Regions from separate parts of the Homo sapiens genome. Here region 2 is linked to region 1. A link means that fine-mapping ties the variant in region 1 to the expression of a gene that starts in the linked region. Tissue or cell type: esophagus mucosa. Region 1 holds a variant in brackets; the other region holds the start of a gene. All regions are shown on one strand. Distances are between the middles of the regions.

Region 1 (5,177 bases):
GAAATGAGAATCAGAGCAGGCCTCCATGGAGACCAAGGCGAGCTCTGATGACCTGATTATCTTGAGAATCAATAGCAAGGAAGATCAGGATCGAGAAGTCAGCTCTGGTTATAAAAGGGTGCACTCAGCATGGGCGGGTGCAGTCCTGCCTTTGTGTGACATACCGTGACATTGGTGATGAGTGGCGGAGAGGCATAGGTCAACACTGAGGAGGGCCCCACCACCGTGTAGCTGGGGCACACGGGCTGCACATACATGTCAGCTGAGTAGGGGCAGCTGACAGCTTCATGGGGCACATACTCGGTGTAAGGTGTCCATGGGGCCAGGGGCTGCAGGGTGGCCGGGGTGGGCTGGGAGAGCCAGCCGGCACACAGGGCAGCCTCCTCTGTCACTGCAGACACAGAACCTTCCATGTCCAGGCAGGAAGGACCTGTGGGAAGAAGGAAATTACAGAACTTCAGATGCCACCCAGATGAGAGGCCTGGGGGCCACCAGGGCTACGGGGCACTCTTACCCACTGTGGTGTAGGTCGCCAGGGGCTGATGGGGCAGCACCACCTAGAGGGGAGAGGAGAAGACCAGGGTCAATGTTTAGCCCTCGTCAACCGGCCCTGTGCAGAGAACTTGCCCAGAGGGCCTCAGGGCAGGAGAATAGAAGATAGGAATCTCTCTGGTTAGAACAAAACATCCCACCCCGTATCCCAACCATCACCACCTACACTTGAGAGATTTGCGTTTCTATTTAGCAGGAAGTCTGTGCGCTCAGGGAGCTGGTGTCTTCTTCTTCTCAGGGGGGGCCCCCAACTCACACCAGGGTATGCAAGTCATTCGCTCACTCAGGCCTTGACAGTAGCTGTGTTCGGTGGGCCAGCTGAGCCGGCCCTGATCCCTCATCCCAGTTGCTCCACCCTAGCTCTATCCCTGGCAGCCTCCACCAAGGGACCTGCGCTCCTTCCTGCCTGATCCTTTTGGTCACCTCCCAAGCCATCTGCCTGCGCGCACACACATTCTCACACAAACACACACACTCTCTCACACACGTACTCTCTCACACACTCTCACACTCTCACACTCACACTCTCACACACTCACACACTCTCTCACACACACTCCCTCACACACATACTCTCTCACACACACGCTCACACTCTCACACTCACTCTCACACACACACACTCTCTCACACACATACATTCTCACACACTGACACATACACATTCTCTCTCACACTATCACACACTCACACACGCCATCACACACAAACACATACACACTCACATGCATACACTCACACACTCACACTCCCTCACACACACATACACTCTCACACACTGACGCAGATACACATTCTCTCTCACACTATCACACTCTCACACACTCTATCACACACAAACACATACACACACGCATACACATACTCACACACACATACACTCTCACACTATCCCTGACACACACATTCTCTTTCACACACACACACTCACACTCTCACACACACAAACTCTCACCGCCGTAGGTGCAGGTGCTGCCCCACTGCTGGCGTGGCCTCGCTTCCTCCTCAGCAGTTCCTTCACTGGCTCCTTCACACGGACGCCCTGGTATGGCCGGGCCGGGGCTGGGGCTTGCTCCGGAGCTGTGGCTGTGAAAAGCAATGTCCCTGGAGCCCATGGTCCTTCTCAGACGAGCCCCCACCCCAAAGTGCTCATTTCCTCATGGATCTGCCTGCTCCCCTAAGTCGTGCTTGAACACGGAGAACCACGTGACACTTCCTAGAATGCCTCTCCAGTATTGTCACTCCTCCTACTCCCAAACCTTCTGTGGGTCCCCTGCACCCAGACAACGAAGGCCCAGCTCCTTGTCCTAGAATTGGACAGTCTTCAGAATGAGATCCGAACCCATTTTTCTCACCACTTTGCACACTCCCTACTACACAAACCCTGTCTCCAACCAGAAGGTCTGTCTGTGTTCTCTACGTGTTCCTGCGTGTCTCACCTCCTCATCTGTGGTTGAGGTTTTCCGTGGTCAGAATTCCCTCTCACTTCTTCCAACCTCTTGATTCTTGCTGACACAAGACAAATGCAACCCTCCTGCCTGACCCCTGCAGCCTGAGTAATTTCCACATTCTACAGCTTCTCAAACATTTCCAGATCTGATTAGTATTCATCATAGGTGGCAGTAGAGGACAGCCATAAGAGCAGGGACTCTGAGCCAGATAGCACAGGCCTCAAATCCTGCCCCTGCCACCACCTTCCTGTGTGATCCTGGGCAAGTTACTAAACCTCTCTGTGCCTCTTAATCTTCAGTTTCTTTATCAAAGGAATATTGAGAGAAGTCACTTGATGTGGGAAATTGGTAGAACAGTATATGCCTCAAATAAATTCAGGTACAGGGTAGGCATTCAAAAAAATTCAGTCTATTATGTAATAGTTATTCTTTTTGATGGAAGTGTCTTATACCCACAACTAGATTATAAACGTCTCAAGGTGAGTTATTGTACCTTATTTCTCTATGTCTTCCCAGTGGC[A/G]TGCCCATGCGTTTTAAGCTCAGTTGATACTTATTGATTAATCGATTGGGTGATTCTTTAAGACATGCTGCCATTTGTCTTCCCTTCACCTCTCCTACACCTTTAGGATTGAGGCAAGTGGCTCCCAGGTTCTCAGTGACTTTCAGGGCATGGGACAATTACCCAAGGGTGATCCTTGTACCCTGGGGCCAGACAGTGTCCACCTGCTGCTGAGGGAAGGTTTCCTTCCCCTCTTGCCATCAAAGCCAGGAAACCAAAGCATTGACCCAAATAAGAGCCAGTGCATAGGGCCCTTCCTGGCCTGGGAGAGCAACTGAAAAGCAGCCGTGGCTGGGAAGCAACAAGCTGCCCACCTAGACAGCCTGTGGCCTAGGGATCCTGGGCTCTCAGAGAGCAGGCCTGGGTCAGCCAAGAAACACTAGACCTTAGGACTTCCACAGGGAGCCCATTATTATCCACCGATAAGGGCCCCAGGGACCTGGGCTCTGAATCAAAGTCCCGGAAGCCTAGGTATCTGTTAAACCCGGATCTGCAGCACTGCCCTGGTTGAACTTTGCTCAGTAAATACCCAGCTGATAAGGTCCCATGCCTGACTCGGCACCAGACCTCCCTCCAGGCTCCAGCCACGAGCAAGGCCTGGCCTTGAAGCCCAGAAGGCAGAGAGAAGCTTGGGCAGAGGCAACAGGAAGTGGGAAATGAGTCCCAGGGGCAGATGTTGGGGGTCAGGAATCCCAGTATCTCAGGTGGACTTTAGACCCATCCTCCAAGGTCCCTCAGCTGGCCAGGTAGCAAATCAACCAGGAAATGATGCAATATACAGGTACAGGTCCTGCTCCAGGAAAGTCTGATTCTAGGGGGCTGATATAGGCCTAGGAATCTGTATGTATAAAAATCTCTCTTGGGAGGCTGAGGTGAGTGGATCACAAGGTCAGGAGATTAAGACCATCCTGACCAACATGGTGAAAGCCCATATTTACTGAAATACAAAAAATTAGCCAGATGTGGTGGCAGGCACCTGTAATCCCAGTTACTTGGGAGGCTGACTCAGGGGAATGGCTTGAACCTGGGAGGTGGAGGTTGCAGTGAGCTGAGATCACACCATTGCACTCCAGCCTGGCAACAGAGAGAGACTCTGTCTCAAAAAAAAAAAAAAAAAATCTGTCCAGTATTTCTGAAAATATACTGGGATTACAACTGCTGATAATCCATTCCTAATTTAACATAAGAATCTCCCGATAACATCCCAATAGGAGATTCATTATCCTTATTTTAACTTCCCCTGTCTGAACAAGAGATCTCTACTGGTATTCATTCATTTTTTCAAATATTTCTAGTGCCTAGGAGTACAGCACTGCACAGGACCCATGGAGCCCCCGCCCACGTGGATCTTGCAGTCTAACGGGGAAGACAAGCAACAAAAGTTACCAGCAGATGAATGTGTCACAACTTGTGAAATTCAGGCTGCTATAGGAGTGTCTAGCAGGGGAACCAGCCTGGTTCTGTGCCCCGGGGCCACCTGTGCGCCTCCACCTTTGCTCTGAACACCAATGACAGTAGACTTGAGAACCACACATACCTGTATTCAAATCTGGGCTGTCACTTACTGGTGGAAAGTTCTTAGATTTATTTAATGTCTCTGGGCTTCAATTTCCTCATTTGTAAAACGGGAATAATAATTCTTCTCTCACACAGTGGTTGTGAGGATTAACCAAAATAATACATGGGGAGCTCCAAAGGCCATGTCTGGCATAGGGTAGATGCTCAATACATGTGGTTTTAATTATCTTCCTTCTGGCCATTTCCACCTTCCTTTCGGGGGGATATTATCATGTCAGACAGCTCTTCCTCCTACTGAGGCTAACTTATGGTAACACATGCCATATTTCCCTCCATTACCTTCTAATGAAACTCACATTTCTTAGTCCATTTACAGCTGTCTCATCTATAAAGTGAAGATCATAATGGTATGTATGTTGTAGGGTAATTTAAGATTTGCATGTGAAGTGCTTGGAATAGAGTTTGGCACAGAGCATTTAATACATGTGAGCTCCGATTATCATGAGTATTAGTAGTAATATTCCCTTCCGAAATCTGAGGACAGATACCAGGTGTCCCCCTAGGTCTGAAGGGACTTCTCATTCCTTCAGCTATTTCTAAATGACATGGTTTTAGTCTCCCCACCTTCCTTCTGGGTGAGTCACTCTTGCACAAGTTCCATTTGCCACTTTCCCTACTGCTGGGTGGTGCCCAGCGATGACCACAGGCCCCAGGTACAATCTGACGTGTCAGCGAACAGGGCACCTGCCCTGCCACACTCAACTCACTCTTTCTCAGGGTCACCCCATGGCCACGTCAGCATTTTTGGTTTTAATCTTTATGAGTACATAGTCAGTGTATATATTTATGGGGTACACAAGATATTTGGATACGGGCATGCAATGCACACTCATCACATCAGGGTAAATAAAGCACCCATCCCCTCAAGCATTTGTCACCTCTTTGTGTTATAAACAATCCAATTATACTTTTAGTTATTTTTAAGTGTACCATAAATTATTGTTGACTATAGTCACCCTGTTGTGCTGTCAAATACTGGATCATATTCATTCTATCTAACTATATTTTTGTACCCATAAGTCATCCCCACTCCCACT
Region 2 (5,177 bases), 54 kb before region 1:
GATCCCCAGTTTGTTCATTTGTTGAAGGATGCCTCTGGGAAACTTTAAGCCAAGGAGAGGGTTAATTATATCAAATACTACAAAGTGGCAAGAAATCTATCTTAATTTGTTATAAAGTCAGTGTAGTATCCACAATTTAAAATTTTAAGAAGGCAATCACGAATGGAAGTTATAGGTTGAGACAGACATTCAGTAAAGAATTCAAATATTCTTCAAGCAGTGCCGGAAGAAACTGTGTGTATGCCGGATTGGAACACTCGATTTTAAAAAACTTATTTCAGCCAGATCAATTTGCAAACATGCGCATGCACGCACACACACAGACACACACACACTTGCCTTTGGGGTAAAAGGAAACTTGAGTTAGTCGTTATCAAAAGATATCATTTACCTTTCTTTTTTTAAATCATTAATTTTTTAAACAGCCTTGATGTGTTTTTATAAATTGTAGACTGTGAATTTTTGTGCTGTTTGAAATCTAAGAGAGAGTTGCCTTTCTTTGTATTCTTGGAGCAAAGTAGAAAGTGAACCCATGACTAGAAAGATAATATCAAGTAGGATATTGTAAACACACCTCAGGGAGATAACATGGGGTGGAGGCAGACAAACAGGCCAATCCGGGGGAGGAATGGAGTTAAGGAAAGCTCTACAATGAGGCAGATTTTTTAATACCCACTCCTTCCAAGTCCTTCAGCTCAAGCTGCAGCCAAATATTTGCATAAAGAGCTGGTAAAGGATTCCAGCTTCCTGGTTCATGACATTACAGCATGGATCGTTTTCAAAATTAATACTGCCTCCTGTTTCAGCAGTGGCTGCCTGCACAGCTCTCCCTGTGGCTCAGAGTATGGGAGTGAGTATGCCCTGTAACCCAAAAGAGGTGTGGTGAGCTCGGCTTCCCAGCACAGAATCACAGAGCAATACGGGTACCTTTAAACTTTAAAGCCACACCTGAAATTTAAAAAAAAAAAAAAAATCCTAAATTACTCAGTATAATTATTAATTCAACTGAAAAATGCAGGCTGCTTTACTTTGAATAGTTAAAAAGAGCAGTCTCATAAACTTTTAAGTATTTAAATACAGTAGTTTAAATAAAAGCAACTTTTATAGATAGTAGTACAAAACATACAAAGTACTGGAATAATTCCCGACCATTAACTAGAATGAAAGTAGGTTCCAACTCACCAACCACAGCTTTAAGAAAATATTTTCTATTTTAATATTTCATGTATACTAAGAACATGTGAATATTTTTAGCTACTCAGAATTAACAAAATTAAGAATTGTGTTCTTTGGGGAAACGACTCCCTAAGGCTAAGTAGCCAGATGGTATATGAAATTTTTGAGAAAAATAATTGACTAAGCCATAGATAGTTGAGATTAAATAAATGTTAGTCCTTAATAATTTTAAATCGAATAGTTTAATAGGAAGCCTTTTGCTGCATTTTCTCAAACTGTTACATTTTTACCACATAAAATTATTTACATTAATTTTTTACTAAAAATTAATCACTTTTAAAATTTAAGTAGAAGAATCTGATATTAGGAAAAAAACTCCCCAAGCAAGCAAACATAAATATTGGATCTAGATAAAACATAATATTGGTTGTATTTAAGAAGTCTGTTTTATGATTCGATTTCAGGTTTTCATTGTTCCAATGCAATTTTCCAGATTGAATCTTAAAAGGATTATAAACGTCAAAAGGCATTTTAAATTCTACACGGACTTAATACACCTACCGCAATTCTATGCACCTGTCTTTCAAATTCTATAAAATATTTGTTGACACTTTCCCTTTCACTTGTTTTTTACAATATATTTTGTACAAAAATTTGTCAAACATTGAAAAAAAAAAAGAAAGCAACTTTTTCTGAGAAGGAAGAATCTGGCTTACCTTATAGCAGAAAGAAACATAGTCCTCATCAAAATGTCTTAGCTTTCCCTTCAGAGCATTTCTTTCAGCCTGCTTCACGGTGATATTCTTGCTTTGACAGCGGTCCGGAGGCAGCAGTGTCCACCTTTCAGACCCAGTTGCACCATCTTCTGCAGGTCAGTACAGCCAGCATTAACAGTTCCCTCAAACACTCTTTCAAAAGTCCATCTCAAAAGTCTTTCAGTCTTGATTCAGGGGTTAAGATAGGCACCACCATTTAATTGGAATCCAACCAATCAGAAGGTGAAAAAGGCATAGTCACTCCACATGCAAGCCCAGCAAGAAAACAAGCATAAATGTTGTCTTCATTTCTGAATTCTCTACTCTCTGCTATATTGTCTCAAGAGTTTGTTCTTCACATTTATTCCAGTTCCTCATCGCCAAGTAACTAAACTGAACTACAAAATCAGAATTGTTCTCAGGAACTTATCTTTTTTTAGTGCACTGTTAGATGGAATACAGAACATCCCAAGACACTCAAATAATGCCTTTGCTCTGTTCCTTTAGTTTCCAGCCGACAGGGGCTTCCCTCCCCTTCTCTGTTCCCAGAAAGCAGTTCAAACAAGTGTAGGTTTTCTCAGCCCAATAAGAATAACTCGATTACATAAACACTCCTACCTCTGCTACTCAACAGCTAAGAGTTTAAGGAGGTCGTATATAAGGAAACCTCTGCCTATGGCCTCTCCCCACTAAATGTGTCACCGTAGCTTCACCTTAAAGGAACTTGAGACCTCAAGAAGAACACAGTGTCCTTTAGTCCCTTTGATGAGCACACTCTAATCCTCTCTTCTTCCAGCATTTACAGATAATTATCACAAATTGGGCCTATTAATAATAAAATGGAAAAGGAGTAATGTTTACTGATTATCTTTGTTTGATGTTTAACAACTTACTTTGATCACATCATGATGTTAACATGTTCACTGAGAAAACATTTTTGCTTTTTGTACTTCCGAGCCAATAGTGTTAATTGGTACTCTATGTTCCTGGTTTCCATGATTATCATTTGCATTCTCATTTAAATCACTTCTCAAAATTCTCTCCTCCAAACTTAAGTTACTGAGTAAGAGTGAAAAGTTCAAAAAAGCAATCACCATAAGTCAAAAGAATTATTTCCCGTAGCATCAGAAGTTTTCTCAAAGCCTCAACAACTTTGTCAGTTACTTCTGAGAGGTTTACGTGAACTGCCGGTAGGGGCTGGATGTCCATGGTTTTACAGCCCAAGAAAGGGGAAGTTTGAGCCATTATTTGACTGTGACACTTGGACACAAATTGGGTCACCATCCTTTTATTTTTGCCCTAACCAGTTTTACAGCCAGTTTCCACATTATTAACCATGTTCATTTCCCTGGAGCTTGAATTAGCTAGGACAACTAAAGAGTCAAAATTGCATTCCCGTTTACTTTTCTGGATTTGTTAAGCCCCCTTTCCCCCTAGACATAGTAAATATTCAGAGTATAGATCTCCATTCAAATCTGTGTTTTGCAATTTTTATGCAAAAACCTGCCTTTTTCCTTTCTCCTCTAGGACTGTATTTTGAGCCTGAACCAATTTCTTCCACGCCCAATTATTTGCAACGGGGAGAATTTTCCAGTTGTGTTTCATGTGAAGAAAACTCAAGCTGCCTCGACCAGATCTTTGATTCCTACCTTCAGACAGAGATGCACCCGGAGCCTTTGCTCAATTCCACACAAAGTGCTCCACACCATTTCCCAGACAGCTTCCAGGCCACCCCTTTCTGCTTTAACCAGAGCCTGGTAATTTTTCTCAGTTCTTTATATACCTGATTGTGTCTAACTATGGGGTAATAGTGCTTTGTGAGTTTGCACCATCCCGTGGGAAATCATACAAAAACTATCAGCAAGGAAATCATCCAAGGAAACAAGCAGAGAAGAATTTAAAAGTCAATGTATAGAAGTAGCCACACACTGCAGGGCATAAACCTTTGGATACACACGTAATTTAGATTTCCCAAGATTTAGATTTTTCGGCCACCAAGTAAGTTGGTGGGTAGCAATAAAAAGAGGTTCCTGGCAATATTCATTTAATGTTTTTTAAACTGTAAAGTCAAGAGACCTACTAATTGGAAGTCAGTGGTTTAAACAATGGCTCTTGGATTTTTTGATGGAATTTTGAGTTCTTGGAAATGGAATTAAGGCTGTGTATATATGGTAACAAACTTCATTTCATTAGGGGGAGGTTTTGCTTTGTTTTGTCATTGAACTGGCTCTACTAACTGATAGTTTGAGTCTGCTATAAGCACAATAACTCATTTGGGTCTGAGATGGTTAGTAAAAATGAAGCCGTAATCTTTGAAAAAAATTAAATTGGTTGTTCTCGGTGGATCTCAAATGTTTGAAAATGTGTTATCCTTCAAAATGAAGTAAGGTTTCTATTAGTGGAAACTAGTTATTTCAGTTGTCTTTTAGAGACTCACAGGTTTGTTTTGTAAACCTTAAATTGTAAAGTTTTCTTTTTTAAGGAATGTAAATACTTTTTGCCTTTGGATTGTCAAAAGTCTGTGTGGGCATCAGACTAAATTTTAGAGCGGATGGGAAATTAACTCTGCAGAATATGCACATTGTCACGGGGAAAATATGGGGCCCCAGTGACCCAGTTCCTTCCCAGCCTCCAAGTTAGGTTTTCTCAGTAACAATTGTAGACTTGCTTAAGAGAAAACAGACAGTAGCTCTCACTCCAGGGAACAAGACTTTAGTGGCGAGACAGGTAGTGACACATCTTGGCATATGCCAGGGATACTCCAAGATCCTTGAAGATCCAAGTTATGCCTTTGCATGATCACCTGATTCTTCATGGTGAGGGTGTGGAGAAACATCCAGGGTGCCACCTACAGCTTAGATTGTGGCATACAGCAGGATTTGATATGCAGGTGACTTGAAGCACAATGGGATTTTGTGGTTTCAGAACGAGCACCCTCTAAAGTAGGATTATAACAAAGGAAGCCAGTGAAGCAAGGCAATTTATTGTTTGGAAAGAAATAGGTAACTATAGATTGTGGTGTCATGAAATCATGTAGTCAGCAAATAAAATTACTTCTGCAGACTTGGGTTGGGTGTTGTTTCGTTTGATTTGGTTTTTTACCCCTCATTTTCTCACTCTGCATTGGTAAACCCACACTGTTCAGTTCTTTGATCCTGTCTAAGTTATTAAGCTCTTTGTTTCTTGGTTGTCATTTCTCTAGATCCCAGGATCACCTTCAAATTCCTCCATTCTCTCTGGCTCCTT

Evidence for each region. PIP is the estimated chance that this variant, and not a neighbour inherited with it, causes the effect.
Region 2: it holds the start of COLCA1, and the variant in region 1 is the best candidate, but not a certain one, in a credible set for the expression of COLCA1 in esophagus mucosa (GTEx, PIP 0.61).

Annotation. Positions count from the first base shown.
Region 1 is chr11:111,357,281-111,362,457 of GRCh38, forward strand. It overlaps POU2AF1 (POU class 2 homeobox associating factor 1), which reads right to left. Exons shown (of 5, transcript NM_006235.3): 2 at 1,508-1,638; 3 at 515-557; 4 at 165-430. Among named protein-coding and RNA genes, the nearest start is that of MIR4491, 12 kb to the left of the region's middle. RefSeq lists enhancers at 397-1,243, 2,004-2,298. The variant A/G (reference allele first, on the strand shown) is at 2,524.
Region 2 is chr11:111,302,936-111,308,112 of GRCh38, forward strand. It overlaps COLCA1 (colorectal cancer associated 1), which reads right to left and starts at 2,113. Exons shown (of 2, transcript NR_169237.1): 1 at 1,893-2,113. It overlaps POU2AF3 (POU class 2 homeobox associating factor 3), which reads left to right. Exons shown (of 5, transcript NM_001271458.2): 3 at 1,993-2,047; 4 at 3,459-3,688; 5 at 5,134-5,177.